2 separate regions of the Homo sapiens genome follow, and region 2 is linked to region 1. Evidence: fine-mapped expression QTL. A gene starts in region 1. The other region holds a variant in brackets. All regions are shown on one strand. Distances are between the middles of the regions.

Region 1 (4,388 bases):
GGTGGATTATTCATGAGTTTTCTGGGAAAGGGGTGGGCAATTCTCAGAACTGAGGGTTCCTCCCCCTTTCAGACCATATAGGGTAACTTCTGGACGCTGGTGGGAGTGACTTTTAGCATGCTAATGCGTTATAATTTGCATATAATGAGCAGTGGGGACGACCAGAGGTAACTGTCATCACCTTTTTGGTTTTAGTGGGGTTTGGCCGGCTTCTTTACTGCATCCTGTTTTATCAGCAAGGTCTTTGTGACCTATAATCTTGTGCCGACCTCCTATCTCATCCCGTGACTTGGAATGCCTAACTTTTTGGGAATGCAGCTCAGTAGGTCTCAGCGTCATTTTATCCAGGCCCTGTTCAAGATGGAGTCGCTCTGGTTCTAACGCCTCTGACACTTGGAGAACATCAGGCCTATGGTAGATGTTGTACAAAACTTGGAGTCAGACAAGGCTACCTGGCTGTACTTGTTCGGAAAACCAGACTTGGAAAAAACGGGAGGGCGATGGCCTGATAATACAGTAGATTGCATTTTATGTTTTGAGCCTGGCTTGCAGCCAACATCCAAAAGTGTTTCCTAGGCAAGGTGCCTAACTGTGTTTTTCTGGATATTCTTCTAACTCATCGTGAGTCTTCAATAAATATTAAATAAACATGAGGAAGGTCCTGAGAAGGTCCTTTTACTGACCCTTGTCTCAAGAAAAGCAAATAGCCGATCGGTAAAAAGCAGCAGGTAGGAAGAGGGGATTTTATTTCCGTCAGTTGCCCTTATCCAGGTTTTGGGCTTAGTGCTGCTCCTCCACACTCATATAGTCCTGGCTGGCTTTTCCACGCATAGGTTAGGAAGCAACTGCTCTGGGGAGGGGGAAGGGGGGAAGAGGGGGAGGGAAAGAGGTCACGGGAAGCCTCCCTTCCTCCCACTGGCCTACCATTGAAGGCCTGTCAGGAGAAAGGAGAGAAGTGGGAGAGGGAGAGGGTGTGGCAGGGGTGGTCTGTGTGGCAAGAGGTAGAGAGAAAATAGTGGATCAGAGCAGGAGGGGGAGGAGCAGGGAAATGAAGCTCCTGTCCTAGGCACTGAAGTGTGGAGTGGGGCTGTGGCTAGAAAGGGGAGAGAAGATGCCTTTCTGGCCTTGCATGAGTCGTGGCAGAAAGGAGGAATCGCGAAGAGGAGCCGGCCATACCCAGCACACACCCCGAAGCCAAGCTGCTCATTACTAGAAAGGCTTATTCCCCCACAAGAAGTTAGTGCGGGCCAGCTAAGTGCCTACTATGTGTGCAGTATAGAAAGAAGTGCCCTGGAGAACCAGGTCGCGGGAGGCGGAGCCAGTCAACAGGGCTTCACCGAGGGGGCGAATTCTGTACACGGTTGTGAAGGAGGGTGGCTGTGCACGCGTGCAGGCTCCGAGTGCAGAAGACGAGGCAGGCCAGGGAGGAGGCGGAAGGAGGCGGAGCCTGAGCCGGAGGAGGGAGGAGGAGGGAGGAGGAGGAGGGAGAGCCGAAGCCGCGGAGGGTGGGAGGTGTGAATGGTGGACGGGTGAGGGGAGTGCCAGAGGCAGAAAAGGGAAGGAGGCGAGGAGGAGTAGTCGTGGCCCGAGGGCGTGTGGTGGGGCGAGAGCTGAACTGGACGGGAGGAGGGAGGCAGTGGCGGTGGCAGCGGGGAGGGGGAGGAGAGAGGGAGGGGAAGAAGGAGGAAGCGAGCGCGGCTGCTGCAGGGGGAGGAAGACGGGGAGGAGGAGCCGTGCGCCGCGGCGGCGGCCGCCAGGGGAACCGAGCGCCCGGCGCGGAGAGCGCGGGAGCGGAGCAGTAGCCCGATCCGGGGCCGCGGGCCGAGCTGCCGGTGAGTGAAGCCCCGAGGGGCGCGGCGGCCGGTCCCCGGGGCTGGGCGGGAGGCGCGGGAGGTTGCGGCGCCGGGGAGGAGGGAGGGGGGCCGGCTTTAGTCCAGGGGCCGGCTTTAGTCCAGCCCCCGGCTGGCCCGGCCTCCCGCCTTCCCTCTGGCTTCCTCCCTCCGCTGCCTGCGCGAGGGGGGCAGGTCCCGGGCGGGCCGCGGGCTGGGGGTGGTGCTGCCCGGAGGGCGGGCGTCTAGGGCCGGAGGGTGGAGCTGGGGGTTCGGGGGTGTACCCGGGGGCGGGAGGCTGGACAAGGACGGCTCTAAATTGGCTGGAGGGGCCCGTCGGCGGCGAAGTTGCTAGCTGGGGGCAGAGACGGCCACGCGGTTGCAGGAGTAAGAGATCCCTCTGTGGCGAGTGCGTGAGACGAGGAGTCCGGCGTCCCTGCCATCCCCGTCGCCCTCCCCGCCTGCTCGGCCCCGCTAGCTCCTCTCCTTGCCTCCGCGTGTCCCCTAGCTCTGACCCCTTTTGGCTCCCGGTTCGCTGCCGCAGCACTGCCGGGTCTCCTTGGCCCCCGCCCTGACCCTTTCGGCCTCCGGCTTCCCCTGACCCCTGCTTGCTTCGCCACTGCCCCGTTCCCGTTTTCTTCCCTCGCTAGTTACCCCTCCCGCTTCCTAATTCCCGGTGCAATTGCCTCTTTGAGACCTCTTTTTTTTTTTTTTCCTCTCCTTCCTTTTAGATTGGCCAACGGCTCCTTTCAACCCTGCCTCGTTGGTGGCCACTGGAGAAGCGCGGGGGGCTCCCCCAGACAGCCGTGGGGACAAGTTAGAGCCAGCACTTTACCCCGGGCCTTGCGTGTAGCTTCCCCTCCCCTACTCTCGGTGCCCTGGTGTCTGGAGGGGGGTTGTGGGGGTGTGCCCGCCTTACATGGTCCACCACCCGGGCAACCCTCTGGGCTTGTGTTCCATCTCACTCTTGCTTCCTGTACTGTGGTCAAGGGGAACCACTGCATCATGTCCCGGTATAGCTACCAGAGTCTCCTGGACTGGCTCTATGGGGGCGTGGACCCCAGTTTTGCAGGCAATGGGGGCCCCGACTGTGCTGCCTTCCTCTCTTGGCAGCAGCGGCTGCTGGAAAGTGTGGTGGTCCTGACCCTGGCTCTGTTGGAGATCCTGGTGGCCCTGCGGCACATCCTGAGGCAGACGAAGGAGGACGGTAGGGGTAGCCCTGGCAGCCAGCCAGAGCAGGTGACCCAGCGGCCAGAGGAAGGCAAGGAGAGCCTGAGCAAGAATCTGCTCTTAGTAGCCCTGTGCCTGACCTTCGGGGTGGAGGTGGGCTTTAAGTTCGCCACCAAGACCGTCATCTACCTGCTCAACCCCTGTCACCTGGTCACCATGATGCATGTGAGTCTGTTGACTTTTTCCTGGGCATCCTAAGTGATAAGAGTCATTTATGTGCTCAGGACACTCCATAGTGTACAGCACCTCATCCCGGCGGGCAGGGGGACCTTTAAAAATGATTTTCCAACGAGTGGCTGCCTTTGTGCCGATTTCAGGTTTGGCTTTCTTTCACCTTTGCACAGTGCGTCAGCCCCACAGTGGAGGTGAGGAACCTTGTGCCTGAACCCTAGGAACGACTGGCACTCACCCTGGCTGCCCCTCCCTTCCAGCCCAGCCCAACCCTGCCGTGCCCTGGGCTTTCACAAGCAGGAATTCCAGCCCCAGCCAGGTGCCCTTTCTGAATCACATCAGTGGACCATGACCCAGCTCCCTTGCCTTCTGTGGTAGTTAATTTCCCAGGGGCCTGGTGACACTCTTTCCTGGAGGTGGTCGCATAAACTTTCTCATCTACACTGTGGTACTTTGGGGAAATACTTTTACAGGTTTCTCTTAATGACTCTTTCATTTGGGAGTGTATGCTCTTAGAGTGAGGTCTGCCTTTGCATTTTGAGGCATTGGAGCAGCACCAAGCTCCTACTAAATGAGTTCTGAAGCAGGTCCCCAGGCTGACATGTGTACTTTGGGCTGGTGATCACTATGGTGAGAGGGTATTTCTTTTTTTGCAAACCTCTCCATCCTATTACTGTCATTCTGTCTCCTATGGTCATAGTCCAAGGGTGCTTAGGAAGCTGATTTCTTTACCTCATCGACTTCCACCCATTAGCGGTGCTAAGGAAAACAAATGGGATTGAAAAGGCAAGTTGCCAGATACATAAAAATAATCTGGGTGAGGACCAAGAGTGAGACTGTCTGTATTCAGCCTGTGTGGAGAGATGTTCTAAAGCTATAAAATCATGGAGGAGGAGGAAGAGGAGACTGGGAGAGCAATCAGTCTTTTTTAGATTTCAGGCTGTGGAAAACCGGGTGTGTTTTATTCAGGGGCAGTTTTGAAACCTGTCATTAGCATCTTTACTGCCTTTATGTTTGTAGAAGGTTATTCTTTGGAGACTTGTGACAGCCTAGCTTGGGGCAGGAGGTTGAGATTATTATCTCCATTTTACAGGCCTGGAGGGGTTTAGGAATGGCAGGTCATTTGCTTGCAGCCAGAAGATGAATTAGTGCCTGGGT
Region 2 (4,388 bases), 120 kb after region 1:
GTTGAGACCAGCCTGGGCAACAAAGTGAGACCCTGTCTGTACAAAAAATAAAATAATTAGCCAGCCATGGTGGCATGTGCCTGTAGTCCCAGCTAGTCAGAAGGCCGATGTGGGAGGGTCACTTGAGCCCAGGAATTTGAGACCAGACTGGCCAACATAGTGAGACCGGTCTCTACCAAAATTTTTTTTAAAAAATTAGCCAGGCGTGGCGGTATGTGTCTGTAGTCTCACCTACTTGGGAGGCTGAGGCAGGAGGATCACTTGAGCCTAACAGTTCAAGGTTACCATGAGCCATGATCATGCCATACACTCCAGCGTGGGTGACAGAGTGAGAACCTGTAATAACAAATGGAAGGAAGGAAGGAAGGAAGGAAGGAAGGAAGGAAGGAAGGAAGGAAGGAAGGAAGGCAGGAAGGCAGGCAGGCAGGCAGGCAGGCAGGAAGGCAGGAAGGCAGGCTGGCTGGACGGAAAGAGGGAAGCAGGGAGGGAGGGAGAAAGGTACATCATAGTTATTATGAGGATTCAATGAAATAATCCTTTGTTGGGTGCCAACTGGCAAGATGAATTCAGTTTTCCATTGCATAAAAAGAATCGGGGGGTAGGCAGAGCTCCTCCTGAGGCCCATCTCTTACCTCAACAGGTGGCCTGCCAACCTCCCCTTAGGTCCCACACGCCTAGGACCTTGAGTGGAGTGAACTGAGACTTTAGGGCAAACTGAGGGTTTCTTTAGAAAGTCCAAGGAAAGAGTGATCACTTCTGGGTCCCGGTACTGCATGGGTGCCAGTTGAGGAAGCTTTGGTGGTAGGATCCGGCCAGAGGAGCTAACGCAGGAAAGGAGTTTGGGGTGGAAAAACTTCGTAAGCTAGGAGGTCCTATGATGTAGTGGATAAGAACAGGAGTGTATGTATATAATTTTATATTGTAGAAAATTGAAAGCATACACAAAAGTAGAAAAAATGTTCCCTAATGCATCTGTCACCCAGTTTCAATGATTGTCACCACATAGCCCATCTTTTTCTTTTTAACAATACACCTCACTCCACCACAAATCCATTCCACCCCCAACACAAACACCTATCCCTGGATTATTTGGAAGAAAATCTCATGTAATTTTAACTGTAAGTATTTCATTATGCATGTCTGAAATGTAAGGACACAGTAAAAAATAAACATTACAATACCATTATCATACCTATAATAACTAGCAATAATTCCTTAAAATCATCAAAGATACCTAGTCAGCAGAGCCCAGGCTTTTAATCTAGCCAAATCACTGTTCCAGTCTTCCTTCTACAGCATCAATAGCCTGTCTCAGAGCCTGTTTTACATTGTAAAATGAGGACGGTCATAACAATTCCTGAATCTTTAATAAGGTAATGCATGTAAAGTGCTTACCACAATGCCTGATACAAAGTAGTAAATGCTCAATAAAGGTTAGCTAAGATTATTTATTAATAATAATAGGAAATATTTGAGTTGCTATTAAGGTGCTTTTGAGAATGGCTTTGACTTAGAATCAAGAGGCAGATTTGGAGCCCAGCGAAATGATTGTTGCGGGGAGGAATAACGACAAAAACAAAACAAAAAAACTTTCAAAGTGGCTGAAAAGAGAGCACCGGTATGAACTGGGAAGTGGAGCTGCAGATGATGGCGTCCTGGTAATTTTCCTCCACTGTATGTAGTTTTTTCCCCCTGCAGTTCCCCTGGAGGAGAGAGGAGAACTGGCTCGGGTGGGGGTTGCAAATACTAGAAAGTATTCTGGGCAAGAAGGGGCACTGCAATCAAAGGGCTGGGGGCCCCCAGAGTCCTGGCTCAGGAGATGAAGTCTCAGGTTCCCTGGGCTCATGGGCCTAAAGCCCCACCTTGTGGGGAATGGTCTGAGTGACTCTGTTTCTGTGCACGGAGTTTGGAGGCATGAGGCAGGCTCACTACATCGTGTTAGAAACATTCCCATTGTTCAGGAATGGTCTTGCTCTCTGCTGCCAGTTCCAGGCATCAGCTGAAAGCTTTTTAATAAAAATGGAACTCAAAGGAGACGTGATAAGGTACCTGATTTTAACCTGAAGTGAGAGAACACCAGATGTTTCATTCTGTCTGAGGGTTTGAGAGGCAAAGCAATTAGCAGCTGCTACTGATTTAGCAACAGACACCTGCTAAATGAAAATCTGTAAAACCGGCCAGGCTTGGCAGCAGAAGCGCATACACTGCTTCTCAGGCATTTCTGGGAATTGTAAATTATGTTGGCTCAAATGGCAGGGCGGGGGGCTTCCAGTGAAGCTGAACATGCTCATCTAGACCAGGAGTGTGTTTTTCTAAGATGGCAATAACTTAGAAATGGCTATTTGGTTGGTGGATGGAGAGGACGAGATGAGAACGAATCTTCCAGAAGCTGCCTGGTTCGTCTCTGCTGCTGGCCCAGCTCACAGGTGCCCTCTGGGAGTCATCCTATAGCTGCCCTCTGGGGACAGATAGGGCTGACAGAAGGACGAGGGAATCCTGCCACCCCTCTCCTCCTGATCCAGAGCACATCTCTCCCTGCCACCAAAGGCAGTAAGTCTCAAAGCAGGAGGAACACCCA[C/A]CTCTGGACTCACAGCATCTCCTGCTCTGGGACAGTTACAGACTGTTGGCTTTAGCAGTGATTTGGAGAGTTTGTGCTTGCTTTGGCTGGGAAAGAGACTTATCCATAGCCTACTGCCTTTCAGGATTCTTTTCTAAGGGGATATCAATGCCTGCTCTCCACGTCTATTTTCTCGAGGCCCACAGTGGAGCACAAACAATGGAAACATAGGAATCCATGCAGAGGGCTTTAGCGATCTCCTGGGACACTGCTTCTGTCCTGTCTTTTAGCCCTTATAGTTTATAGTTTAGATTTTACATGTGTTTCCTATCTTTTCAACCTTTTCTAATAAGAATTCCTTACATGTGGATGGGACTTGGCAACCAGCAAATCTCACCTTAGTGTAGTTGTTGAGGATGGGTTCAGGGATTTTCTAGAAAATAAATCTATTTTCTAGGTTTATTTCCTGGCTGGGCCACTCCTGTGTGTGTGTGTGTGTGTGTGTGTGTGTGTGTGTGTGTGTGTGTGTGTGTGTGGTGTTGGTGGGAAGAACATAAGGTTCTTCATGGAGTGGGTGTTCAATATATGACTGATTGAAGAGAAGGTCAATTTGTAGGTCAACTAGGTGGTGCTGAAAGAATTGAGCAACTCCCATTTGTGCCTTATGCCACATGCACTGTACATAACTGTGTCTTGGTCTCCAAACTAGGCCAGAGGTCAACTGTAACTTGGGCCAAAGGTGCCTTCTGTTTCCAGTTTTGAGCAAGGGAATGGCAGCTCTCCATATGGAGCAGGGACCAGGGGGTGCTGTTGGCAGATGCATGGTGAGAGCTGTCCTGAGGAAGTACCATCCAGAGTCTCGTCCTAGCAAGGTGTTTTAGTGTGGTTAAAGGGTCACTCCTGGCCGGGTGTGGTGGCTCATGCCTGTAATCCCAGCACTTTGAGAGGCTGAGGCGGGCAGATCACCTGAGGTTGGCAGTTCGAGACCAGCCTGACCAACATGGAGAAACCCCGTCTGTACTAAAAATACAAAAATTAGCCGAGTATGGTGGCTCATGCCTGTAATCCCAGCTACTCGGGAGGCTGAGGCAGGAGAATCTCTTGAACCTGGGAGGCGGAGGTTGTGGTGAGCCAAGATCGCACCATTGCACTCCAGCCTGGGCAACAAGAGCAAAACTCCGTCTCAAACAAAACAAAACAAAACAAAACAAAACAACCACAACTCAACTCCTGCTTCCAAAGATGGAAGTGAGAGAAGATTCTTTTTCCTTTAACTGAGTGGGCCCTTAGTTGAGATATACAGACATGTTTTAATTTCACTAACTCGGCCCCACAGTGTAGGAGGGGGAAAGGAACAGCAAGTAGTCCAGGTAGAGGAAGAGCTAGGGTCCCCACACTCTAGCCAGAATTGGGGGAGCTCCACCTTCTCTGATCAGGGGAGAGACAGGATTCCCATCACCTCCTTCCAATAACTAAAATAACCACAGCACAAATATGTGTCCTGTATCAGCAAGCTGCCATTGAAAGAGGGCCATGGACCCTGCGTATGATAGAGCATGCTAGGTGCACTCATGGTCCTTATAAAAGCAGCCAGGTATGCATGGGCTGGGCCCTGCATGCACAAGTTACCCATTGGTCCACTAAACGTATGTTCCTAAAACCCATTATGGTCTTAAGAATTCAGACTGGCATGGATGCAAAAATTCAGATAACCCCTAAGTAATAAAAGTACTTATTTTTCTTTAGAACCTAAGACCTATAAGTCTCAACTAATTTGAAGAATACTCTGGTGACCAAAGGGAGAATGCCTCTTCAAAAGATTGCTTTTATT

Alleles and levels. Positions count from the first base shown, and alleles are read on the strand shown. Sizes are in standard deviations (SD) of each study's normalised expression.
As copies of A replace C in region 2, the expression in subcutaneous fat of the gene that starts at base 2,174 in region 1 goes down (small effect, 0.14 SD a copy in GTEx).

The links. PIP is the estimated chance that this variant, and not a neighbour inherited with it, causes the effect.
Region 2: its variant is the best candidate, but not a certain one, in a credible set for the expression of TMEM164 in subcutaneous fat (GTEx, PIP 0.80).

What each region holds. Positions count from the first base shown.
Region 1 is chrX:110,000,941-110,005,328 of GRCh38, forward strand. TMEM164 (transmembrane protein 164) reads left to right here and starts at 2,174. Exons shown (of 7, transcript NM_032227.4): 1 at 2,174-2,238; 2 at 2,561-3,224. The coding sequence starts at 2,835. RefSeq lists a silencer at 1,419-2,278 and an enhancer at 2,381-3,036.
Region 2 is chrX:110,123,772-110,128,159 of GRCh38, forward strand. All of the region lies in intron 4 of TMEM164 (transmembrane protein 164), which reads left to right. Among named protein-coding and RNA genes, the nearest start is that of MIR3978, 44 kb to the left of the region's middle. The variant C/A (reference allele first, on the strand shown) is at 2,579.